Linked DNA regions of Homo sapiens. The protein of the gene in region 2 purifies or fractionates together with the protein of the main gene of each other region. This does not show direct contact. Each region holds a gene or a part of one and is shown on either strand. Other genes may lie near its edges. The genes, in order: NEK1, ODAD4, CFAP410 and YME1L1.

Evidence for each region.
Region 1: the proteins of ODAD4 (region 2) and NEK1 purify together in Homo sapiens (affinity purification with mass spectrometry; 2 studies listed by BioGRID and IntAct, with this or other methods). This does not show direct contact.
Region 3: the proteins of ODAD4 (region 2) and CFAP410 purify together in Homo sapiens (affinity purification with mass spectrometry; 2 studies listed by BioGRID and IntAct, with this or other methods). This does not show direct contact.
Region 4: the proteins of ODAD4 (region 2) and YME1L1 purify together in Homo sapiens (affinity purification with mass spectrometry; 2 studies listed by BioGRID and IntAct, with this or other methods). This does not show direct contact.

The regions. Positions count from the first base shown.
Region 1 is NC_000004.12:169,476,554-169,483,583, forward strand, and holds part of NEK1 (serine/threonine-protein kinase Nek1), read right to left. Parts: intron 2,982-7,030; coding exon 2,850-2,981; intron 1,828-2,849; coding exon of another isoform or gene 1,819-1,827; exon of another isoform or gene 971-1,818; intron 945-970; coding exon 879-944; intron 800-878; coding exon 571-799; intron 1-570. UniProt on the Homo sapiens protein: Phosphorylates serines and threonines, but also appears to possess tyrosine kinase activity. Involved in DNA damage checkpoint control and for proper DNA damage repair.
Region 2 is NC_000017.11:41,961,603-41,967,019, forward strand, and holds the end of ODAD4 (outer dynein arm-docking complex subunit 4), read left to right. Parts: intron 1-3,390; coding exon 3,391-3,881; 3' UTR 3,882-4,901; downstream 4,902-5,417. Other genes in the region: CNP (2',3'-cyclic-nucleotide 3'-phosphodiesterase), read left to right, coding at 5,283-5,285. UniProt on the Homo sapiens protein: Component of the outer dynein arm-docking complex (ODA-DC) that mediates outer dynein arms (ODA) binding onto the doublet microtubule. Plays an essential role for the assembly of ODA-DC and for the docking of ODA in ciliary axoneme.
Region 3 is NC_000021.9:44,336,372-44,343,236, forward strand, and holds the start of CFAP410 (nuclear encoded mitochondrial protein C21orf2), read right to left. Parts: upstream 3,020-6,865; 5' UTR 2,824-3,019; coding exon 2,747-2,823; intron 2,332-2,746; exon of another isoform or gene 2,062-2,331; coding exon of another isoform or gene 1,863-2,061; intron 1,297-1,862; coding exon 1,278-1,296; intron 550-1,277; exon of another isoform or gene 453-549; intron 1-452. UniProt on the Homo sapiens protein: Plays a role in cilia formation and/or maintenance. Plays a role in the regulation of cell morphology and cytoskeletal organization. Involved in DNA damage repair.
Region 4 is NC_000010.11:27,130,381-27,137,410, forward strand, and holds part of YME1L1 (ATP-dependent zinc metalloprotease YME1L1), read right to left. Parts: intron 6,006-7,030; coding exon 5,896-6,005; intron 4,602-5,895; coding exon 4,451-4,601; intron 3,743-4,450; coding exon 3,659-3,742; intron 1,562-3,658; coding exon 1,479-1,561; intron 1-1,478. UniProt on the Homo sapiens protein: ATP-dependent metalloprotease that catalyzes the degradation of folded and unfolded proteins with a suitable degron sequence in the mitochondrial intermembrane region.

The DNA.
Region 1 (7,030 bases), on a different chromosome or scaffold from region 2:
TGTGAAAAAAATTACTTAAAATCAGATTTGTTGATGGTCAGACTTGCCCTTCTAGAATGTAAGCTCCACAAGAGCACATATGTTTCTGTTTTGTTCCTATATCTCCAATTCCTAGAACAATGTAAGAAATATAGATTCTCAGTAATTATCACCGAATATATAAATCATTAAGTCAGATTTTCTCAATACTCTCGCTAAATGCCTAAGAGATGTTTCTGAGACACTACCCTGGTTCTCATCAAGAATTATTCATAGTAACAGATTAATTTAACATGGTATACAGAGTTAAAGTAATGCAATTTAAATATGTATCATTAGTTCCCTCTCTCACACTATACACTTTTGTAATAAAAATCCTTGCTATTAAGGCTGATTAGTTTGATTAGTTTTCTCTGCTCTTCACATTTCACTGTGAGAGGGAGGCACTTCTATTCGCCCAAAAGGAAAATATATAGAATTCTTTCAGCTTCTCTCAATTCTTCTAAGTGTTCATTTTTTTCAGAGTGGTTAGTCTATAAGTTTACATATGTACTAGACCTAAATAGGATATTAATATACTACTATACATACTTTCAGTTGTAGAGAAGGATGTATCTAGTGTTAACTCATCCAGAGGAATCACAAGTTGACCTCCTGCCTCCCACTTCTTGCGATCAGATGAAACTGATTTTTCTTTTTCATGCTCTTTGGCATCTTCATGAACATTTATCTCAAAAGTATCAGAGAGATTCTGCTTTCCTTTTTCATCTTCTTGAGCTTTAAGATTTTCATTTAATCTACGAAGTATTTCTCGCTTACTCTGAAAGTCACGACATTATATATTTTAATATGTATATCATTAAGTAAAATGATTGATAAACTTTGAAAATTTTACTTACTGAAATAGCATTGTTGGTCTTTTGCATCTCTTCTGAAGTTTCCCGGGTATCAGTTAAACTACTGTCCTTTAAATGCAGATAGATACAGAGGAAGAGATAATTTTATTTTTTTAAATCTACCTTTAAAAATATTACATCCTCGTTACTTTTTGGTTTTCATTAATTTGTTCCTTGTAAATTTTTTATTCCTATAAAATGTTAACAAAGCTTCCTTCATTATCAGCAATGACTAACCTTTAAATATTATTAATTAGACAACATAGACAGGGGCCAATTCTCAATTATTTGTCATATTTTTAGATTACTGCTCACATAATTAACTATATCCTCTTCCTCTTTGGTACCTGATTTTTTGGTAATTTAAGTCAGAAAATTAGAGGAAAAAGTAGAAATTAGAGGAAAAAGTAGAAATTAGAGGAAAATTCATATACTCTCTTAATTATAACTAGAAAAAGTTTTGATAGATGAAGTAATTCAAAATAGGCTGTGTTATTCTAAAACTGTCTTTATGTTTCATGTATATATATCCTTGTTAAGCCATAGTACTAAATGTAATTGAGAAGTGGCTTTCCTCCCTAAACAAAGAGTGTAACAAAAATTAGTTCTGAGTCATTTGTACTACAAATGACATAAATGTTATCTCCTAATTAGCATTGTCAAAGCAATCCAGACTATCTAAAATTAAAAAACATACGAAAAGAAGAAATTAGCAGTTACGAAAGCTATGAAAGCAAAGGCATGTAGAAGATTCAAAGAACAATTTTCTAAGTTTTAAGTAAGTGACATTTACCAACACAACACAGAAAGAAAACCGTTCAGTTATATGGATTACCTCGAATTTTGTAATACTTAAAAAAAATTAAAAATTTGGTGGTCAGTTTCAAAGTAATATATGAAGCAATGAGACAAAGAACATTTTACCCAGTAAAGTAGTCAGGAATTAGCAGTCCTACAACCAGAGAGATGAACAGCTATTGAGATGTGAGACTGGGTACCAAGGAGGGACCACACAGTGGTATCTAAAGTTGGAGTAACAACGTGGCACACGCAAAGTCGTTATCAGAAAGAAAAAGTGACTAAGCCTACTTGAAGAACAATAGTTTCTTACATGAAGTTCTTGAGAATGATCAAGAAACTTATATTTTCCTACTGAGTTTTATTTTCAAAATCAACCCAAAGGCTATAAAAAAAAACAGCTAGTGTACCAATTTTGTCTGCAAATATTTACTGAAACTAAACAAATAAAAAGCACAGACATCCATTACCAGGAAAGGGGAAAATGAAGTTATTATGTTATCTGATTCAGTAGACTTTTCTCCTCCTGTCTGTTGAATTCTAGGCCGCAGCTCCACACTATGAGCCCACTTCTCTTAACCCCTGAACAGTCTTCACACTTCAGACAGATACCTGAAATATACTTCTAAGTTTAAGCTTTTTATTTGTCTATGTTTCTTTGTTTTACTATCTGTAGGGCATGACAGAGATTCAGAAGTAGAAGGTAAAAGGAATAACTGATGAATTAACTAGTTCTACTGAGTCCTCTAACATTTGCCATGTCACAAAATTTGAATAAATGTAAATATGTGTTGGACCTAATACCTAGAGCTACTTTAGCACCAAAGAGACATTATTCTTTTTAAAGTGAACATTTGTTAATCATGAGGGTTGGGTAGAAAAATGTTTATAGTATTATTTTCAGTACATTTCTCTGTATATTTTATTTTTTCAATATTCTTTTAAAGTAATATAAGAGTTATTGTGATATATTTTCATCTACCACGTGGTCCTAGATATAAAACTTATAAACAATGAGGCTCCAGTATTCTGAGTAAACTAAAATCCCTTAAAAAGTAATTTTTTTCCTTAGAAAAACCTGAAAGGGACATTAGGGATTAATGTGATTTCATTAAATTTAATTTCCTTTTAAATAATCTTTTGACTTTGAGGAGTTCTGAATCTTAGGAAACTTACCACGCCAACTTCTTTCAAAGCTGAAGTTACAGAAATAACAGATCTCATCTGTTGCTTTGATGGAGAGCCACCTGTTTCATGCTGTCCCAAAGGTGGAGAAACATCAGAACTCTTAACTCCTTTAGCCACCAACTATAAAAAAGGATTTTATTAAATACATTAGGGATTTTATATTTGTATGAAGAAATAAAATGGTACCTACCAGATCACTATTTATCCACTCTATCCACAAGTAGTTTTTTTCATTCCTGAATTATCTGTTGAGCAAGGCATTATGATGCTACATGCTGGGGATACAGCAGTGACTAGAGAAAAAAATCTCTGGTCTCAGATGTACACATAGTCATGTCACATAGTCCTAAATAACCCGCTTTCATTGCATTATCAATGTTTCATGAAATGATCCTGAAAAACTGTCTTTTAAAGATTCAAGTGTAAGATTTTGTTAATCTTACACTTCTAAAAGAAATGCTTTTGTAATTCCTGCAGGTTTGGGTACAATCTTCTCAAAGTTCAAATATCAATTACTCAACATAAGAGCCCTCATAAAAATGCCAACATAAATGAGAATGGAAGGAGAAACAGATCCAGGTAATAAGATTTACTTCACTGAAAACATCATGTTGTATTAACATATGTGCTTGTTTTTATGTTGCCATTTAAACTCTAAACAAAGTAAGATTATGAAACCTGAATTAATACAAGGAAATGACATTTATGGGTATGACAATAGTAACACAGCAGGAAGTTTACTCCCTACTCCCTATTCCTAGTCTTCCTCAATCTAGGAAACAAGACTTTCTGGGGAGTATACATTTCAAACACAATATTTATTGAGTATCTTCTAAAAATACAGTAATAATACAATCTTAATATTTAGGCTTCTAGACCTTCACTTTACAACAATACAGGCATACCTCTGAGATATTACGCACTTGGTTCCAGACCACTGCAATAACGGTAATATTGCAATAAAGTGAGTCACACAAATTCTGGGGTTTCTCAGAGCATACAAAATTTATGTTTACACGATTCTGTAGCCTATTAAGTGTGCAACAGCATTATGTCTAAAAAACAATGTACACACCTTAATAAACACCTCATTCCTAAAAAAAAAAAAAAAAAAAAGCTAATGATTCTTCTGAGCCTTCAATGAATTGTAATTATTTTGCTGGTGGAGGGTCTTGCCTTGATACTGATGGCTACTGACTGATCAGGGTGGTGACTCCTGGATGTTGGGGTGGCTATGACAATTTCTTAAAATAAGACAAAAATGAAGTTTGCTGCATCCATTGACTCTTTCATGAAAATATTCTTTTGATTTTGTAAAAATATTTTTAAAATTCTTTATTATTTAAATAAAGATGAGGTCCACTATATTGCCTAGGCTGGTCTTGAACTTCTGGCTTCAATGACTGTCCTGACTCAGTCTCCCAAAGTGCTGGGATTACAAGCGTAAGCCACTGTGCCCAGCCCATGAAAATATTTATCTGCAGCATGTGATGCTGTTGCATTTTACCCACAGTAGAACTTCTTTCAAAACTGGAGTCAGTCATCTCAAACCCTGCTGTTGCTTTATCGACTAAGTTTACAAAATATTCTAAATCCCTTATCATTTCAACAATGTTCAAAACAGCTTCACCTTCGTAGACTCCACCTCAAGAAACCACTTTATTTGCTCCTCCATAAGAAGCAATTCCTCATCCATTCAAGTTTATCATGAGATTGTAGCAATTCAGTCATATCTTCAGGCTCCCCTTGCCATTCTACTTCTCTTGCTATTTCTACCACATCTACACTGACTTCCTCCACTGAAATCTTGAAGAATGGAGTCAACTTCTTCCAAACTCCTGTTAATGTTGACATTAACATTAACATGACATTAACTCCATGAATCAAAAAAGTTCTGAATGGCATCTAGAATGATGAATGATGAATACTTTTTAGAAGGCTTTCAATTTACTTTGCCCAGATCCATTAGAGGAACCATTATCTATGGCTACAGCCTTAAAAAAATGTATTTCTTAAATAAGAAGACCTGAAAGTCAAAATGACTTCTTGATACATTGGCTGCAGAATGGATGTCGTGTTAGCAGGCATGAAAACAACATGAATCTCTTTGTATAATACATCTCCATCAGAGCTCTTGGGTAACTAGGTGCCTTGTCAATGAGTAGTAATATTTGGAAATAATTTTTTTTTTCTAACCAGTAGGTCTCAACAGTGGGCTTAAAATATTTACAGCAAACCGTGCTGTTAACAGATGTGCAGTCATCCAGGCTTTATTGTTCCATTTATAGAACACAAATAGAATAGATTTAGCATAATTCTTAAGGGTCCTAGGAGTTTCAGAATGGCAAATGAGCACTGGCTTCAACTTAAAGTCACCAGCTGCATTAGCTCCCAACAAGAGAGTCAGCCAGTCTTTTGAAGCTTTGAAGCCAGCTATTGACTTCTCTTTAGCTTTGAAGCCAGGTATTGACTTCTCTTTAGTTATGAGAGTCCTAGATGGCATCTTCTTCCAATAGAAGGCTGTTTTATCTACACTGAAAATCTGTTGTTTAGTATTACCACCTTTATCAATGATCTTAGCTATATCTCCTGGATAATGTACTGCAGTTTCTCCATCAGCACTTACTGCTTTACCTTGCACTTTCATGTTATGGAGGTGGCTTCTTTCCTTAAACCTTATGAACCAATCTCTGCTAGCCAACAATTTTTCTTCTGTAGCTTCCTTATCTCTCCTAGTCTTCACGGAATTGAGGAGAGTTAGGGCCTTGCTCTGGATTAGGCTTTGGCCAAAGAGAATGTTGCGGCTGGTTTGATCTTCTATCTAGACCACTAAAGCTTTCTCCATATCAGCAAGAAGGCTGTTTTGCTTTCTTTCTTTCTTTTTTTTCTAAGAGATGGGGTCTTGCTCTGTCACCCAGGCTGGAGTGCAGATCCAGGCACAATAATAGCTCACTGCAACCTTGAAATCCTAGGCTCAAATGATCATTCTGCCTTAGCTTCTCAATGTGGTTGGGACTATAGGTGTGTGCCACCACATCCAGCTAATTTTTCTTTCTTTCTTTCTTTCTTTTTTTTTTTTTAGAGACAGGTTCTCACTATGTCATCCATGCTAGTCTCAAACTTCTGGCCTCAAGCAATTCTCGTGCCTCAGTCTCCCGAGTTGCTGAGACTACAGGCACCTGGCTGTTTCGCTTTCTTATCATGTGTGTTCACTGGAGTAGAACTTTTTTTTTTTCTGAGATGGAGTCTTGTACTGTCGCCCAGGCTGGAGTGCAATGGGGTGCAATGGCTCAGTGAAACCTCCGCCTCCCTCCTGGATTTACATGATTCTCCTGCCTCAGCCTCCTGAGTAGCTGGGATTACAGGCACACACCACCACGCTCAGCTAATTTTTTGTATTTTTAGTAGAGATGGGGTTCACTATGTTAGCCAGGCTGGTCTCAAACTCCTGATCTCATGATCCACCTGCCTCGGCCTCCCAACATGCTGGGATTACAGGCGTGAGCCACTGCACCTGGTCTGGGGTAGCACTTTTAATTTCCTTCAGGAACTTTTCCTTTGCATTCACAACTTGGATAACTGGCGCAAGAGGCTTAATTCTGTGCCTATCTCAGCTTTCAATATGCCTTCATCACCAAGCTTAATCTTGATTTCAGGTGACAGACATGCAACTCTTTTACTTGAATACTTAAGAGGCCACTGTAAGTCATTAAGTGGCCTAATTTCAATATTATTTTGTCTTAGGGAATAAGATCTGAGGAGTGAGACAGGGGAACTACCAGTCAGTGGAGCAATTAGAACACACACATTCATCAATTAAATTTCCCATCTTATATGGGTGAAGTCTGTGGTGCCTCAGAACAATTACAACAGTAATATCAAAGATATAATGACAATAATGAAAAAGTTTGAAATATGGCAAGAATTACAAAAATGTGACACAAAGACACAAAATGAGCAAAAGCTGTTGGGAAAATGACACTGATAGACTTGCTTGATGCAGGGTTGCCACAAACCTTCAATTTGTAAAAAATGCAGTATTTATGAAGCACAATAAAACAAAGTATGCCTGTATTTATTTTGTTCAAAAAAGGATGGAAACATTGCTTTAGTCCCATAGTTCAGTATTATTGAAAAAGTATACTGATATTTAAGATGTTACTACAAAT
Region 2 (5,417 bases):
CCACCAGCAGCCCTAGCCTATCTCTGGGGCAGTAGAGGGTGAGGATTCAGCCCACCATGGGCTGGACTGTCTGGCCCCAGAGCGCACTCATTTCTCTCTTCAATTGATTCATCAAGTATATGGTGAGCACTTGTCATGTACCTGGAAGGTGTTAGATTCTGGGGAGAGAGGCCCATCCCTGCCCTGGAGGAGCCCATGGCCCTTTGGGCAAGGCTGACCAGTGGAGTTGTCAGCTGCTGGGATCCTGCACACAGGTGCTACACCGAGGTGGAGGTGTGCTGCCATGAGGGTGCATGCAACGGGGCGTGGGCTCCTCTGGGGAGGCAGAGGAGGCTTCGACGAGGAAAAATCTTCTACCTCCAACTCCAAAAGATGCCCAGGAGTTTTCCAGGAGAGAAGTGGGAGAAGAAAGGCATTTTTCCAGCAGGGAACAGCAGGGCCAGAGGCACAGAGACAGAATAACAGTAGCTACACTTTGGGGGCTCTTACTGTGTGCTAGGCACTGGGTTAAGCACCAGACAGGAGTGATCTTGTTGGGTCTTTACCCCACTAGGAGGTGTAGGTGCTGTGGGGGGAAAGGGAGGCTGAGTGAGGTGAGTGCTCTGCCAGAGTCATGTAGCTAGGGAGGGGTGACTCGGGGCCCCACTCTCCCCACCTGCGGCGCTGCTCTCGGGCCAGCAGTGTGATGGGCAGGTGCAGAGGGGCATAAGGTGCAGAGGCTGCCTGACAGCTGTGCCTTACCACATTCTTTCTCACAAGGTCTCCAGGGAGTAAACAGGCCTTTGGCCCCCTGCCTTTGGGCTCTCCTTTCCTGCAGGGAGGGAGTGAGGGAAGGAGAAGCAGAAGATGGCTGAGCAGCCCTACCCCACTGGAGAGGGGCCTAGAGGAACAGGGGTGTTAAGCGCAGTAGCCGACCCCCATTCATGCTTCCCGCAGGCCAGGCATTCTTTCAAAGACTGTGTGCACGGACTCATCCTATCTGTATCTGTTCAGGAACACTATGAAGGAAGTGTTATTAGCTTGACTTTATGGAGGACATGGAGGCAGAGGGGTTAGAGGCTACAGTGGTTTTCAGTCTTGGGCAGTCTGCTCTAGAACCCACGCGTCGGCCCGTGCCACACTGTTTCTAGTGACACAGACAGCCTTTTCCTGCCCCAGTCTGTGGAGCTCTCACTCCAGCCAGACTGCAGTGAACAGAGCTGGGGCTGGAGGTCCGGGAGGACAGAGCCCAATGCAGATTCTTGGCTGCAGCCCTCCAGGCTGCAAGGCTGAAATCCTTTCTGGTCCAGGCAGGGCAGCGGGAGGTTTCTGGGCACCTGAGCAGCCAGATGACAGCCCTTTATTATCCAGCACCTGCTCTGTGGTGGCTGGACCCCCTCAGAGGGGCTCTGTCTCCGCCCCCACATGCCCTTTGAGCTGCTCTGAGAAGCCACAGGAGCAACAGCTGTGGAGAGAGACTCTGCGGGGAAGCAGCCAACACCCCAGTCTCCCTACCCTGGCCTGCGTCCTTGTGCCTGGAGAACTGCCGGGCACGTCCCTCTCAGAACAGCAGGTGGCAGCATTGCATCTGTTTTCACCACCAAAGGGCTGTGACCCCCTGAGACCTGAGACCCTCTGCAGATACCTCAGTAACTAGTGGTTTCCAGGAGGAGAATGTAAGGGAGACGCAGAAGGGGATGTAACTTTTCTCCATAACTGATAAAAAAAAAAATTTAGGAGCAAGGATCCCTTTGCTTGTAAAATAACTCTTCAGCTGAACTTTTTGTTAGCAGCGTATATCTTTATAGGAAACCTATCTTTTTCCTTATGTTTTTTCTATATTTTCATAGGAAACCTCCCAACAAATAATGAATGTGCTTCCCAGGGACAAAGAGAAAGTGTCAGAATGAAGATGCTGGAGAAAATCCTTCTGTCATTTTCCAGCACCTATGCTATTTCTTGCAGGGAAAAGAGGTGTTCTGGGGTCAGACTGTCCTGGGTTCAAATTCTGTCTCACTTGCACACTTGCAGTGTGACCATTGTGTGATTTCTTTTCTTTCTTTTTTTTTTTTTTTGAAACGGAGTCTTGTTCTGTCATCCAGGCTGGAATGCAGTGGTGCAATCTCAGCTCACTGCAACCTCCATCTCAGCCTCCCAAAGTGCTGGGATTACAGGCATGAGCCACTGTGCCTTTTTTTTTTTGAAATGGAGTCTCCCCTCTGTTACCCAGTCTGGAGTGCAGTGGCGCGATCTCAGCTCACTGCAACCTCCATCTCAGCCTCCCAAAGTGCTGGGATTACAGGCATGAGCCACTGTGCCTTTTTTTTTTTTTGAAATGGAGTCTCCCCTCTGTTACCCAGTCTGGAGTGCAGTGGCGCGATCTCGGCTCACTACAACCTCCGCCTCCTAGGTTCAAGTGATTCTCCTGCCTCAGCCTCCTGAGTAGCTGGGACTACAGTCTTGTGCCACCACTCCCGGTTAATTTTTTTTTTTTTTGAGATGGAGTTTTGCTCTTGTTGCCCAGGCTGGAGTACAATGGCACAATCTTGGCTCACTGCAACCTCCGCCTCCTGGGTTCAAGCGATTCTCCTGCCTCAGCCTCCCAAGTAGCTGGGATTACAGGCGCCTGCCACCATGCCCAGCTTATTTTTGTATTTTTAGTAGAGACGGGGTTTCACCTTGTTGGCCAGGCTGGTCTCAAACTCCTGACCTCAGGTGATCCACCTGCCTCGGCCTCCCAAAGTGCTGGGATTACAGGCGTGAGCCATGCCGCCCGGCCGTGTGATTTCTTTTCTATCGATCTCAGGTCCCTTGACTGCAAACTCAAATCAACGGCAGTGCGCATTTTCATGATGTCTGGATGGGATAAGCTATACAGCCCTCACGTGATGCACAGGACGGAGCTGGGCTCAGTCAATGATGGTTCCCTTTCTCTGCTTTTGGAAAGGTGTGCTGTCAACACCAATTTAAAGAGCTGGCAAAAACAGTCATTCTCAGGGCCTTTCTCTCATCGGCCTCTCAAAAGCACAGGCCTCCACAGAGATGAACAGTTTCTTTCTTTTTTTTCTTCTTTCTTTTTTGGAGACGGGTCTTGCTCTGTCACCCAGGCTGCAGTGCAGTGGCTGGATTTTGGCTCATCACAGCCCCAACCTCCTGGGCTCAAGCGATTCTTCTGCCTCAGCCTCCGGGTAGCTGGGACTACAGGCGCCAACCACCACGCCTGGCTAATTTTTGTATTTTTAGTACAGACAGGGTCTCACTGTGTCGCCCAGGCTGGTCTGGAACTCCTGGCCTCAAGGGATCTGCCTGCCTCAGCCTCCCAAAGTGCTGAGATTACAGGCGTGAGCCACCGCACCCGGCCTGACATGAACAAACTTTTATCTTTCTTCCCGCTTTTCTCTTATTTTTCAGAAGCTTCACTGTATGAAGATAGAATAATAACAAGAGAGAAGGACATGAGGAGAGTGAGAGATGAGCCCGAGAAGGTGGTGAAGCAGTGGGACCATAGTGAGGATGAGAAAGAGACAGATGAGGACGATGAGGCTTTTGGGGAAGCTCTGCAGAGCCCAGCAAGCGGAAAGCAGAGTGTGGAAGCAGGAAAAGCCAGAAGCGATTTGGGAGCAGTTGCCAAGGGCCTGTCAGGAGAATTAGGCACAAGATCAGGAGAAACAGGCAGGAAGCTACTAGAAGCTGGCAGAAGAGAGTCAAGAGAAATTTATAGGAGGCCTTCGGGAGAATTAGAGCAAAGACTCTCAGGAGAATTCAGCAGACAGGAACCAGAAGAACTAAAGAAACTTTCAGAAGTGGGCAGAAGAGAGCCAGAAGAACTGGGAAAAACACAATTTGGAGAAATAGGAGAAACGAAAAAAACAGGAAATGAGATGGAAAAGGAATATGAATGAAGCCATCGGTAGAGATGAGGATCAGGAAGCTGGTGTTCAGAGGGATCATGGGATTTTATTAAACTGGATTTTCAAGCGATTTGTCTGTTATAGGAAAAATGAGGGTTTTACTTCTGCTGCTTTCCATCACTATTTTGCCATTAAATAGGTGTCTTTCACTCTTGCAAACCCTGAGTCTGTCACTTTGCCTCTTCACCCCTGCCCATTCTTGGAAGAGCATCGTGGAAGAAATGAGAAAGGTGCCAAGAAGAAAGGGTTTCAGGAGGGTGAAGATACGGGCGCTACAGGGAACAAGAAGTCACAGGGAGGAGAGGGGAAGGCCTGGGAGGAGAGGTGCTTCCCACACACCGGTGACTGACTGAGTCCCTCCAGTGCGCAGGACAGCGGGGAGGCTTTATGGATGGAACAGTGGTGGGGCGGCCCCAGCTGTCACAGGTAGGAGAATGCCGCAAGCCAGAACCAAGCGAATGCTGGGAGTGAGGCCAAAGATAGGGGAGTGGCCTGGGAGTCGGGAGGGCAGACAGACTCCGCCTCTGACACCTCTGGGTGGCATAATCAGGTAAATCAGGCTCTCCAAGCTGGCTTCTCCTCTGAACAATGGGATACCTGCCTCAGGGGTTGCTGCGAGGACTGAGTGCTTAGCACAGCACTTGGACAGGAAACTCAAAAATCCAACGGAGCTCTCAGTGGTTTCACAGAGGAGGTGGCAGCTGAGGATCTGGCCTCAGAGGATGTTAGGATTTCACTCCGTTACTCATCTGTCCCTTTGGCCATTGCCATCCTGGTCTGTCTCCACAGCTCCTAGAAGGAAAGGTCGGGGCTGAGACTGACTTTCGGCTGGCACAGGGCCTGGACGAATGAGGCCAGTGAGGCATTTCAGATGCAGAGTTTACCGGAATGCCAGCAAATTGCATGATAATATTTTAATCCAATGTGGTAAAAAAAAAAGTTTTTAATTAATGCAAAAGTCCATGATGAATAAAATATCAAAAATTAAAGACAGGATCCGACTTTGCACGACCCTGCCTCACTCACTTCCTGCTAATCCACGGGACCGGGGAGGGTGACTGAGTTACCCCTCAACACGCAGAAAAAGCTAGTGGCCGCTCAGCTCGCAGGCGCAGTGGGTGGGTGCGCGTGGGGAGCAGGCGCGCGCAGGGGGCGGGACCGGGCCGAGGTTCCCGCGCGCGGCGAGAGTTTCGGGTTTTGGTTCGCAGCGCCTGCGCGCAGAGGAGACGGCCCGCCCCCAGCCCGCCCGGGTGCCCGCTCCGCCCCCCGGGCTATGTAAAGCGGCCGGGCTCGGGTCGTGCCACCGCTGGACTCCCGTGTCCCTCCGCGCAGGCGGGCGGCCCCGGAGCGCTGGTGCCGGCAGAGGCGGCGACGGTGGCGCCCCTCCTCATCATGGTGAGAGGCCGGGCGGGGCCGGGCACGGGGTAGCACCAGGGCGGGAAACGAGTGTCGGGGCCCCTCGGGAGGAAGCGTCTTGCAAACGAGGACCCGGGGCTCCGGGTTCGACTTCCAGTTTTCTTGGTACTC
Region 3 (6,865 bases), on a different chromosome or scaffold from region 2:
CAATGTCCCCTACGCAGGGATAGAAAGCAAGGAAAGGATGGAAATCCCTTCTTGATAACAGGTCTAGGCCAAAAGGAAGACAGGCTTGAGACTGGATCTCAGATCACATTGGTACTGTCAATTCAGGGGTGAGGTGCCCGGGGTGGTCCACAAAGCCTCACAACCTGCAAAGCTCCCACATATGTGAGAGCCCACCATACGCCAGGCATGGCACCAGCAGCTCACAGCCTGGTCAGATGCGTCCCATGTATAAGTGACTCGTGTCTATGGACATGGTACGTTTGTATATTCACTGCTAAACATGCAGTATTTCAGTTACAGCACAAAACAGATTACACCCAGATGCCACGTATCCAGGCTTTTTTTTGTCTTTAAGAAAAGGTACAGTTCAAATTAAAAAAACAAAGGAAAATAAAGAGATAAATAATTGCGCTGGACATGGTGGCTCATACCTGTAATTCCAATACTTTGCGAGGCTGAGGCAGGTGGATCACCTGAACTCAGGGGGTTTGAGACCAGCCTGGCCGACACAGTGAAACTCCATCTCTACTAAAAAGTACAAAAATTAGCCAGGCATGGTGGTGGGTGCCTGTAGTCCCAGCTACTCAAAGGCTGAGGCAGGAAAATTGCTTGAACCCGGGAGGCAGAGGTTGCAGTGAGCCAAGATCGTGCCACTGTACTCCAGCCTGGGCAACAGAGAGAGACTCCGTGTAAAAAAAAAAAAAAAAGAAAGAAACAATTGGTATGCGATCCCTGTGTAAGTTGGGGACATTTTGGACTGAGAAAGACAATGAGGGAGAGAAGAAAAAAATCTTTCACAGACGCACACACTCAAGTTCTCCCAGCAGGGCTTATTCTCTGCCTGCCTTTGGGGCAGCGGCAAGGGGGTACAAGGCTAGATGTGACCAAGAAGAGGGGGTGTAGACCTTCAACTTCCCCGTAACAAAGTAAAACAAGCCCTCCTGGGATTCCTTTCCAGGTGAGAGCAAGTTCCAAACTATTGCTCCCCTCCTCTGCGACCAAGTGACAAAGGGTGTTTCATTTATAGGGATGTTGACGGGAACTGCAAAATAAGCCTGGCACTAGAGAATTGTTTTTCCATTAGTGGTTCTGCAGAATGAAAACCGCTAAGTGAACAAAGTACCAAGTGTGGGACTGAATTGATAGGTGCAGTTTTGTCAACTTAAAAATTCTCTTGGGAAAGAAGCTACAACATTTGGGTTGAGGCTATTTGGAGATGATCAGTGCAATACTTACATCTGTGAGGCAATACTTACATCTGTGAGGCGGCTGCCCCTGGGGAGAGAAAAGATACATACTTTAATTTTGTTAAAGTTGAATAAAAAACACTGAAGACAAAAATTCCAAAAATCACCGATGACTCCCTACAAACCTTAAGATTCTAGGATTTTAATGGCATGGCAAAAAAGGAAGGTTGCCCAGATAACTGGCAAAGGTGTAAACAATTGTTTTAGCTGATTTTCAACTAAACTGTATGTTTGACGTTGGGGTGGTACTTTTTAGATAAGGAGCAGCAGGGTTGCTCCATTTGTAAGACACAAAAAGATGAACTCTTCCTCATGGTCCCTGAGTAGCAGAAGGTTCATTTCTCTCACTGACAGACATAAACAAGGGCGTCTTTATAAGAGGTCAAGTTCAAAGGGTGAACAGGCAACTTATGAAGCAAACTTTAAAAGCCTGAAACAGGGTTGTTGTTTCTCCCAGCTTAGTGGGAGTACTGACCACCCCATGCAAAACAAAGAAATGCATTATTGAAAGCAAATGACACGGGAATTGTAGCCAAAACACCAGATATGCCAGGGCAGAGAGAAAAGCTTTTTAATTAACAGGGAAGAGCTCACTCTGGGCAGTCTGCGGACACCCCTGGGAGGAAGCGTCTGCTCTCGCTGACCCCCACACCCGCCTGCACGGTGAGGCCAGTTGACACGGCGCGGTCACTCTGCTGAGTCCCCAGGGAACCCTGGAGATCTTGCAGGCCTCAACTCCAGGCTCCCTCTTCTGGAAGCTCCTGGTCTTCCTTGGCTCAGTGAGACTCAGCATTACCTGCCTTTCAGCCTGCCTGGGTCCCACCGCACCCACGTCCCTTCCTGTCACCTGCTAGGAGTACCCTGGGAACGGCCGCCCCCAGTACTGATTACCAACGTGTTTCCTGACTCAGTCCTGGAAAGCTCAGTTCTCTCTCCTATTCGACTTGGTCCCAGTGACTGCTGGCAACCCCAGACAACAGACCCAGCCCACAGGGCACCCGGGGCAAAGGCGGGCCGGGAAATGGGGGGGGGCCCAGGCGACCCCGACCCCCGGCCTCCTCCCCTCCCTCACCCGCGGCTCCTTCGCCGCCCTCGCCCCTGCCCCTCCCCCCTTCCACTCCGCCCCCGCCCCGCCCCGCCCCGGCTCCTCCCTCCGGCTCCGCCCTCGTCCCGCCCCGGCTCCTCCCTCCGGCTCCGCCCTCGTCCCGCCCCGGCTCCTCCCTCCGGCTCCGCCCTCGTCCCGCCCCGGCTCCTCCCTCCGGCTCCGCCCTCTCCCCGCCCCGGCTCCGCCCTCTCCCCGCCCCGGCTCCGCCCTCTCCCCGCCCCGGCTCCTCCCTCCGGCTCCGCCCTCGTCCCGCCCCGGCTCCTCCCTCCGGCTCCGCCCTCTCCCCGCCCCGGCTCCTCCCTCCGGCTCCGCCCTCGCCCCGCCCCGGCTCCTCCCCCCACCCCGGGGCGGCCGCGGCCAGGCCCCGCCTCACCAGCAGTTGAGCTTGCGCACGCTGTGCAGCTCCGAGGCCTTGGCCCGGGTCAGAACCATCTTCCGCGTCAGCTTCATGGCGGCCGCCCAGGCCCGACCGGCGGGCGCCCCCGGCCTCCTGATCCCGGGCGGGTGACGACTGCGCGGCGCGTGTCTCCAGGGGCGGGGCCCGCGTCGTCAGGGGCGGATCCTGAGCCGATTGGCGGCTCGGTGAGGAGAGCGGGGCGACGCGAGCCCGCTGGGGCCGCTTGGGCGCCGCTGACACGTTGGCTCTGCTCCTGCTCATGCGCGGCCTGGGGCGCCCTTCTCTGACGCGATTCTAACGCGACCCCGGAAGCGCGCAGCGAGCAGAGGGTGGGTGCAGGTGGCGGTCCCCGAGTCGGCCCAGTGAGGGCTGAACTGCTGCTCCCAGGAACCGAGCGGGGTGGGCTCGGTCCGACGCGCATCATGGCCGAGTGCCTAGGCCTGACTCTGAGCGCAGGCCTAGCGTGGATGGCATGGGCGCTACACAGCTCCAAGTTACGCGATTCAAACTCTTGGAATAAACCCAGGGCAGCCCTGGGGCTGTGTTGATTCCTTGTCTCCCTCCCTCCCAGCATTTACAGAAAAGACGCATTTATAGGAAAGACGCACGGGCAGGTCCAGCAGAGCCCTTACAAGCATTTCAACCTTTTAGAAATCAGATAAGACCCTCTAAACATCGTTACATGGGCCACAGTTACATTAAGACAGGCGTTCTGACGTTCTGAAACCGCCTTTGCAAAAAATTGTATCGGTGAGAGAAGGTTGGCCTTGAAGGAGATCTGGCCAACCCCCATCTTGCCTTTGGCCTTAAAACTGCCCTTAATTATTCCTGGATAAGCAAAGGTAACTTTGGGAGACATTTATAGTTTAAGTGATAGCAGCCCTTCCTCAAAACTAAACAGCCTTTGTAAAGCTAATGAGACCACTGAAACCGCCTTTGCAAAAATCATAACTGAAGAAATTATGACAGGGGAAGATCTCCTCACCCACCCCATCTTCCTGCTATCCTCTAAGCTGCTTTTGTTCATTCCTGGGTGTAGACCAGACTAGCCTTGGGAAGGAATTTAGTTTATAGATTAAACTGAAACAAAATTGATAATAGCCCTTTCCCAAAAAAACCCTTCTTGCCTGGGGACCAGTCTGCCTTTGTAGGACTAACAAATTAAGCTACGAGATTAAAAATTACAGTTTAGGGGCCATGCAACCTCTGGCGGCAAGAGTCTGAACCTCCCCAAATTGCTTCTGGGAATAACATCACTGTTGCAAAACTTAAGGTCAGTGCTTGAAATATTTTGTAGACCCTGCATTCAGATGCAGCAGATGACACCACCCAAACGGATAATCTGGCTCAACCATGTGTGTGATCCCACCCAGGGACAGAAGTCAGCCAGAACTCATTTTGACCCCCTATGATTTAATCTTCGACCTGACCAATCAGCACTCACCACTTTCTGAGCCCATACCCGCCAAATTATCCTTAAAAACACGGATCCCCGAATGCTTGGGGAGACTGATTTGAGTGATAATAAAACTCTGCTCTCCTGCACAGCCAGCTCTGTGTGTATTACTCTTTCTCCATTGCAATTCCGTTGCCTTGATAAATCGGTTCTGTCTAGGCAGTGGGCAAGGCGAACCCATTGGGCGGTTACACTACCAGCCTAGAAGGATAGAGGAGCATGAATTCCACTAAGATGCAGATGTAAACATTCGTCAGCCATTATTCTGGAGGTCACAAGATAAGCTACTTCCCCAATTACTCCTGCAGGTAACATCACTATTGTACCTTTGCAGGTTTCTTGCATGTCTCACACGGATGGATCCAGCTAAATGTCTTGCCAACAGCTCCTGTGGCCCCACCCAGAAGCCATGCAGCACAAAAGGACCAAAAGGACAGCTAGATTTCATCTCGCACCTAACCAATCAGCACTCCCCATGCCCTAGCCCCCTGTTCACCAAACTACCTTTGAACAACCCCTAACCCATGAGCCTTCAATTGTAACCGAGCAGCTTAGCAGCTGTGAATCCAAAATATCTGAGACAGGACTCAATCTGTTTAGAAAGTTTATTTTGTCAAGGTTAAGGACAAGCCCATGACACAGCCTCAGGAGGTCCTGATGACATGTGCCCTGGGTGGCTGGGGCACAGCTTGCTTTCATACATTTTTAGGGAGACATGAGACATCAATCAATATGTGTAAGATGGAAAAAGAAGAAAAAATATATGTATAAGATGTACATTAAGCCGGGCGCGGTGGCTCACGCCTATAATCCCAGTACTTTGGGAGGCTGAGGCAGGTGGATGGCCTGAGGTCAGGAGTTCGAGACCAGCCTGGCCAACATAGTGAAACCCTGTCTCTACTAAAAATACAAAAAATTAGCTGGGCGCGGTGGTGGGTTTCACTCGTGTCCATGTGAAGAGACCACCAAACAGGCTTTGTGTGAGCAATCAAGCTGTTTATTTCACCTGGGTGCAGGTGGGCTGAGTCTGAAAAGAGAGTCAGTGAAGGGAGATAAGGGTGGGGCCGTTTTATAGGATTTGGGTAGATAAAGGAAAATTATAGTCAAAGGGGGGTTGTTCTCTGGCGGGCAGAGTGGGAGTCACAAGGTGCTCAGTAGGGGAGCTTTTGAGCCAGGATGAGCCAGGAGAAGGAATTTCACAAGACAATGTTATCAGTTAAGGCAGGAACAGGCCATTTTCACTTCTTTTATGGTGGAATGTCATCAGTTAAGGCGAGAACCAGCCATCTGGATGTGTACGTGCAGGTCACAGGGGACATGGTGGCTTAGCTTGGGCTCAGAGGCCTGACAGTGGGCGCCTGTAATCCCAACTACTTTGGAGGCTGAGGCAGGAGAATCGCTTGAACCCGGGAGGCAGAGGTTGCAGTGAGCCGAGACTGTGCCATTGCACTCCAGTCTGCGCAACAAGAGCGAGACTCCGTCTTAAAAAAAAAAAAAAGATGTACATTAGTTCAGTCTGGAAAGGCAGGACACCTTGAAGGCCGGGTGGGGTTGTGGGGGTGGAGGGAGGCTTCCAGCTTCCAGGTCATCGGTGGATAAGAGACAAAAGATTGCATTCTTTTGAGTCCTTTCACTGAATACACAATTTGGTCTAGCTTAGTAAATCTGCATTTTTACATAAACAATAAGGCAGAGAAAGCAAACAGATAGGCATGTGTCTCCGGTGAGCAGGGGGATGACCTCCTGTCCCACACCTGTGAAGATCAGCTATCAGTTTACATTCCAGGGTGAAATTCAACAGAACTGTTTGAGGGTAAAGATCTTGAGGCCCACAAGGAATTTCCTTGTGGGCAAATTGTGAGGGAGCTTCATAGCTTTTTATCTTTGTAGCGATCTTATTTAGGAATAAAATTGGAGGCAGGTTTGCCTGATGCATTTTCCAGCTGACTTTTCCCTTGACTTAGTGATTTTAAGGTCTTGAGCTTTATATTCCTTTCACACAGCTAAGCCTCAAACCATGTTTTAAAACTTTTTCCCCTTTCCCCTTTCCTCCTCCTCCACCCTAGTCTGAAGATGTAACTGAGACAAGCTGCTTGTGTTACCTTCCATCTTGAAATACAGCCTGGGAATGTGAACCTCCACTCCGTTCCCATCCTGTGCTCTCAGGCCTTATGCACATTTAGTTTACCTGGATGCCTGTTAAGCACACACCATGCTCACTTATCTGGTCATCTCTTTGCTTGGAAGCTTCAGGGGTCAGCTCCTGAAAGGGACCGGACACCTCATTCTGTCTCCAACAAGATTACTTCAAGGCCAGAACTCACTCTCGGCCTTGAAGTAATTGAGGACTAAACTCTGATTTTTCTTTTTTTATCTTGCCCAAATTCCTAAAGGGCATGGACAGTCATGCCCTACAAACCATAAATTCTCATCAGATGGGTTTTATTTAACCTTCTATATCGTGGTGTTGACAAAAAGAGTCAAACTCTGTAAAATATTTTAAGAGATTTATTCTGAGCCAGATATGAATGACCATGGCCCGTGACGCAGCCCTCAGGAAATCCTGAGAACATGTGTCCAAGGTGGTCGGGGCACAGCTTGGTTTTTTACTTTTTAGGAAGGCATGAGACAGCAATCTA
Region 4 (7,030 bases), on a different chromosome or scaffold from region 2:
TGTGGACTTAACATACATATAAATATAATCTCCTATTTTTAATTCTAGCTCAGACCTCTCCCATACCTCCAAAGTGGTATATCCAAGTTACTCAACACTTTCATTCGTATCTCTCACACTTAACATACCTAAAACTAAATTTCTAACCTTTGTCCCCCAGATCTGCTCCACTCACAGCCTTTTAAAACCTCACTAAAGGCCGGGCACCGTGGCTCACGCCTGTAATCCCAGCACTTTGATCTGCGTGGATCACCTGAGGTCAGGAGTTCAAGACCAGCCTGGCTAACATGGTAAAACCCTGTTTCTACTAAAAACACAAAAAATTAGCTGGGCGTGGTGGCTCGTGCCTGTAATCCCAGCTACTCTGGAGGCTGAGGCAGGAGAATCGCTTGAATCTGGGAGGTGGAGGTTGCACTGAGCCGAGATCACGCCATTGCACGCCAGCTTGGGCAACAATAGCGAAACTCCGTCTCAAAAACAAAAACAAAAATCTCAGTAAATGTCAATTCTATCCTTCTAATTGCTGAGACCAAAAATCTTGTGGCTCTTTTTGACTCCTCTTTTCTCTTACACCCTACGTTCCAATAAGAAATCCTATTAGTTCTACTTTCAAAAATGAACAAGTCAGACACCCTATTACTTGAGAGCCTTTGCTCAAACTGTTCCTTTGGTCAGAAACGTTCCTTTCTCAGATAAATGCAGTTTATTCCATCTTCTCCTTCAGATTTTATCTCAAATGTCACCTTCTCCATCAATCACACCTTGAACACTCCATTTAAAACTGTAAGCCTTCTCTCAAAACTCCCAATCCTCTTTACCCTGCTCTACTTTTTCCTCCATACACTTTTATTCTTTTAACATACTCTACTTTTTCTTACATCACATATCAGTGTCCAATTACTGCTTTTAGAGTTTAAACTCTAAGAATGCAGAGATTATTTATTCTATCCCAGCAGCTAAAATAGGGCCTAGCACTTAATACTATTAAATATTTAACAAATTAATCAACTATAAACTAGCATTTATCCATTCTATTCATTCAAGAAATATACATTGTCTAACATGTTTTAGATAGTGGAGTTACAAAGATCAGTAAGAGGTACAGGTAAAGAAGGACCATTTATTAAATATCTACTATGTGTCAAGCACATACATTATCTGTCAGGATCTAAAGTAATTTCTTCAAGGTCTCATAGCTAATAAGTATAAAAATGAATTTCAAACATTAGTCAGCTTGACTCTGAAGTCCACATTCACTCCACTACACCAGGCTGCTCCTTCATAAATTATACTATCCCCTGCCATAAAGCAAGATTTGATCCTTGGCTATTATTATTTATCCCAAAATACTAATGTTTCTAATACTTTTGGACACAATTTTACCTATTCTAGAATACACTGTAGAATCAAATATCGACCTCATATAGAGTATCAATTAGAGGATGTATGAAGAAGGCAAGGCAATCTTCTTAACTTACCCCTTTAACATGTTCAAAGGTGACATTTTTCATCTGGACAGGATCTACTGCAGAATCAAGCCCTGTTGTTGTCCGGAAGCGGACTAAAGGGAAGAAAAGAAATGTTTATATTTGATAGATTAATAACATTCCAATCACCTTGTTTTTTAGATGCAAGAAAGCAAAGCCTAGAAAAATTAAATGTCTAAGTGACCTAACTTCACATATCAAATCAGAGTGAGGAATAGAAACTAGGTCTTCTGGATTTCTTTTTTTTTCTTTTTGACAGAGTCTTGCTCTGTTACCAGGCTGGAGTGCAGCGGCACGATCTTGGCTCACTGCAACCTCAACCTCCCAGGTTCAAGCGATTCTCCTGCCTCAGCCTCCCAAGTAGCTGGGATTACAGGCATGCGCCACCAAACCCGGCTAATTTTGTATTTTTAGCAGAGACAGGGTTTTCCATGTTGGTCAGGCTGGTCTTGAACTCCTGACCTCAGGTGATCCACCCGCCTCAGCCTCCCAAAGTGCTGGGATTACAGGCGTGAGCCACTACGCCCGGCTGGTCTTCTGGATTTCTAAACCATCTTCAAAGAGTAAGTGATTCACGTTAAAAAGACATATTTCGGCTGCTCTGCCTATGGAGTAGCCATTCTTTTATTCCTTTACTTTCTTAATAAACTTGAAAAAATAAAAAATAATAAAGACTGGGCGTGGTGGCTCACACCTGTAATCCCAGCACTTTGGGAGGCTGAGGCGGGCAGATCGCAAGGTGAGGAGATCGAGACCATCTTGGCTAACGGTGAAACGCCGTCTCTACTAAAAACACAAAAAATTAGCTGGGCATGGTGGCGCAAGCCTGTAGTCCCAGCTACTCGGGAGGCTGAGGCAGTGAAATTGCTTGAACCCCAGGAGGAGGAGGTTGCAGCGAGCCAAGATTGCCCCACTGCACTCCAGCCTGGGCAACAGAGCGAGACTCCATCTCAAAAAAAATAAATGAAATAAAATAAAAAAATAAAATAAAATGACCTATTTGTACTTTTCAGTTAATAAAATCAAAAATTATTTTCTACTTCTTATTGTAGTATCTAATGATAGAAATCTTAAATCAAAGTTTCTCAAACTTTGGTGTGAATAAAACTCACTTGAGAAGTATGTTAATTCTCAGGCCACAGCACAGGGCCCAGGAGAATTTTCATTTTTAACAAACACTTCAATTATTCTAATTGGTCACAGGTCTACACTTTGAAACACATTGCCTTAAAGTTAGCAGAAAACATTGACACACATTAATAAAAAATTGAGGCTTAACACATTATTATACTTTTCATGTAGTCTTCTTCCTCTGACAACTGTTATTACTTGCCCTCAAATGACCTATCAATTATGACAACATTAAGTCTGACAAGCAAGACAGAAAAAGTCTGATAGGAGAGTAAAATATTTGAGATCAATTTTGGAGAACTATTACAAGGATTTCTTAAGTCTTTCCCACTCAGGTAGAAACTTCCAAACTAGAGCAGTTATAAATGAGTAAATTGAGCAATTTCTAATTTCCTCAGAAGAAGCCCAAAATACTGTTAAGATAGGCTGAAAAATGAGCTGGCAAAATATGGGGTTAAGGAGAAATGCTTAATAAATCAGGAACATAGAAGCTGGGAAAACAAATTTAAAATAGTAATTCTAGAATGAACACCAATAGTTTTGGCCCACAAAGTATTTTTTAAGAATCTGTACATATCCTTAATATTTAAGAGAATAGGCAACACAGGGTGAAAACTGCACAGTAGTGGAAAAGGTAATTGGAACCACGTAAGTCTGACACTATTGCTTAATTTCAGATAAGCAAACTAAAAAAAAGGGAAACATTTAATGTGATTTTATGAATAAACTGAATTTGTTTATCTTTGAAATAGAAGACTATTTCAGCTTGTATTGCCATTATAAAATTCTTCTACATAATTTTAAAATTAATTAATTAATTTTCCTTTCACCCTGTTGACCAGGATAATTTTTAAATTTTATAATTGGACAGGTATCATTTTCTAAAAATCTGGGAAACTAACCACTACTAGGAATGAAAGCCTAATTCTAGTACTGTAAACATTAATATGTTCTTTCTTTAAGGGTTAGATTAGGCATTAAAAGGAATCATGTATTTAAAGGAATAAGAAATAAGTTAGACAAATAAAAAAAGCTTTTACCAGATAAAAATGGGTTTTTTAGAAGTCCATAAATGCCGAATAGCAGCAGAACGAAGAGAATCAGACGGGTTCGCCTTAGGGAATCTAGGAGAGAAAGAAAAAGCTTTACATGAAATCACATTTATGAAATATGACAGCTCAATGAAATGCAAATATTAGGTTATTGTTAATAATCATATTTCATCACATCCAATTTTGGAATCTGGCATTCTTTCTCACAACTGCTATGATTTCCTGTAAGTACCCTATTATCAAAAACTTAAGGCCAAGCATGGTGGCTCATGCCTGTAATCCTAGCATTTTAAGAGGTCAAGGCAGGAGGATCACTTGATCCCTGGAGTTCAAGACCAGCCTGGACAACAGGGCAAGATTCCATCTCCACAAAAATTAGCTGGGCGTGGTGGCACATGCCTGTGATCCTAGCTACTCAGGAGGCTGAGGTGAGAGGATCACTTGAGCCCAGAAAGTTAAGGCTACAATGAGCCATGATTGCACCACTGCACTCTGGCTTAGGCAATGAAGCAAGACCGTGTCTCAAAAACAAACACAAACAAAAAATAAAGAAACAAAAACCTTTATGAAGCCATTCACACTTCCTGTTCTCCAATTTGTTTTCTCTCTTGAGAAAGGGAAACCATCAGCAGTATCGCCATTTCTACATAGATTAAGTTACAAATATAGTGGAATTTAATCAATAGATGGTCTTAGAAAAGTTACTTAAAACTTAAATGTAGGACTATGACTTCCTTTCAGTTACTCTTCTCAAACACGGATGGTGTCAATTCAACTTACCATTGGTTTTTTGTGTGAGTGCTTGAGCTTTCAGAAAACCTTCCGCAAAACCAGTTTTAAATGCATCTTGGTGAGCTTCAGGTATATTTTTGGTTTTCATGAGTTTGTCCAAACTCTCAACATCTGATCCTCTGTCCCGCAAAAGAAACCCCTGAATACACAAACAACACATCAGTACTGGTTAACAACACAGTGATACTTCCCAACAATATTGTGACCACTCAAAAAAATTCACTAAAATTCTGTATAATTTTTACTGTCAATGTGAAGAAACAGATTAAGACTCAGCAATGAATTAATCAATAACTAGGAAACTAACACTAGATCCCATTCCTGCATCAATCAATTAATAATATAAAGAAAGTGGCATTATTCTCTGCACGAACACTACACTGAAAACAGGTCACATATTATTTTAGGGTTTGATTGGCTTAATGTTCATATCCCTCTATCTTTGCTAGAGGAAAAAATCTCATTAATTTACTAAATGTCTACTAAGCACCGTTCATATACTTGGCCTTATATAAGTTCTGAAGATGTAAAGATAAATAAACCACTGATCTTAAAGTTTTCAGTCTACTGGAAAAAGATATATAAATAACTAAGTTTCTTAAATCATTTTGATATTATGTTAGAAGTATTATGTATGGTGGTAAATCAATGCTACCTCAGGAATATGGAAAAGGCCTTACAGAGAATAGGACATCTAAAACACAGGGAATAAACACTATGAACAATCTGACGGAGGCATGAATCAATAGCCTTCAGTGCTCAAGAACTGTAAGCAATCTTATATAAGACTTCAATGCCAAGAGAGGAGCAGGGAAACAGAGGGGCATATTGAATGGTGAGAAGAGAAACATGGCAGGTAGAGATCAAATGATGAAATTCCCAGTGTATCAGGTGGAGGTAAGCAATAAAGCAGAGTAATATAACTAGATCATTATTTTAGAAAGATTGATGGGTGGCAGTCTGGAGGCTGGACTGAACGCAGCAAGACTAGAGGCAAGGAGACTAAACAAGTATTCATTACAGTAATTTAGGCAACAAATAGTTATAGCCTATCTATGGCAGTGGAACAGATGTAAGAAATATTTAGGAGGTTGGATCAACAGGACTTTAGTGGTTAATGGATGTGGGAGGTAAGGCAACATGGACAAACGTAGGTTGATAGCCAGGTTTTTAGCTTGGGTGGATGCTGCTCATTAATACAGAGAACACCTCGACAGGTGTAGGTTTGTGGGAAAAAAATCTAGTAAGTGGAGAGGCAAGTCTGGTGCCCAGAAGAGTTAGAGGTATAATGATTACACAGGTTACTAATCCCTTATTATTAGTGGAAAGAAGGAAGAATATCTATCAGCCAACAAAAGAAATCAGATATTGAAGCTCCTCACTCTAACAACTTGAAAATATTTGCTTTTTGGATCATAAAAAGGTCTAATTACCTTCACGAATGATGGCGCTATATTCTGTGTTTCAGCTAATCTCTCGGAGGTAGACTGGAGACGTCGTGTCCTTGATTTCAAAGTTTTAAAACCCCGAGACTGTATGAAAACTAAATAAAACAATACCATTCACTGTCACTATAAATTGTTACAGGAAAAGAAAAATGCCTAAGATTCTAAAGTCTGACACCCTACCTGTATATCCTAGTCTATCTAATTTGCCTGACACTTCAATACGTTTTCCTTTGTTTCCTTCTTTTTTGTAGAGACGGGGTCTCCTTTTATTGCCCAGGCTGGCCTTGAACTCCTGGGCTCAAGCAGTCCTCTTGCCTCAGCCTCCCAAAGAGCTGGGATTAGGTCTGAGAACTTAAATCTATCATGCCCAGCTTATAGTTTTTTCTATCCTCCTTTTTTCAAAAGGAACTTTATTTATTTATTTATTTATTTATTTATTTATTTATTTATTTATTTGAGATGGAGTTTCACTCTTGTTGCCCAGGCTGGAGTGCAAGGCATTGCTGCTCACTGCAACCTCCGCCTCCTGGGTTCAAGCAACTATCCTGCCTCAGCCTCCTAACCTCAGGTGATCCACCTGCCTTGGCCTCCCACAGTGCTGGGATTATAGGCGTGAGCCACCGCGCCTGGCCTATTTTTTATGTTGATAGGGGATAAAGGTAAATAGAGAAGTCAGAGGGTTATACAATATAATTTAAAAAACTGAGTATCAACTCTGATAAACTGTGATTTCAAAAAAAAAAAAAAACCCAACCAAGTAATTAAAATAGATTGAATCTACACAACTGATTTTTACATGTTTTTGGTAATTACATAATGTTTTTGAAAAAAGGGTAAGTGTATCAAATTAGTGTCTTCTAATTTCTCAAGCCCCAATCCCACTTCCCAGAAGTATAACCTGTTAACAATTCTGACTACCCTTGTATGCATGCACACAGGTGCTCTTTCTATAAAAACTACTCTAGAAATAGTACCTAATTTTTTGCAATTTTCATTTTTCGTGCATATTTTTCAGAACAGAACAGTGCATTCAGTTTAATGGCTGTTTACACTTTTCCAATTTATCACAGTGCAATTCATTCAACCATTTCCCTGAACATTATTTGTTTTCTGGTTTTTA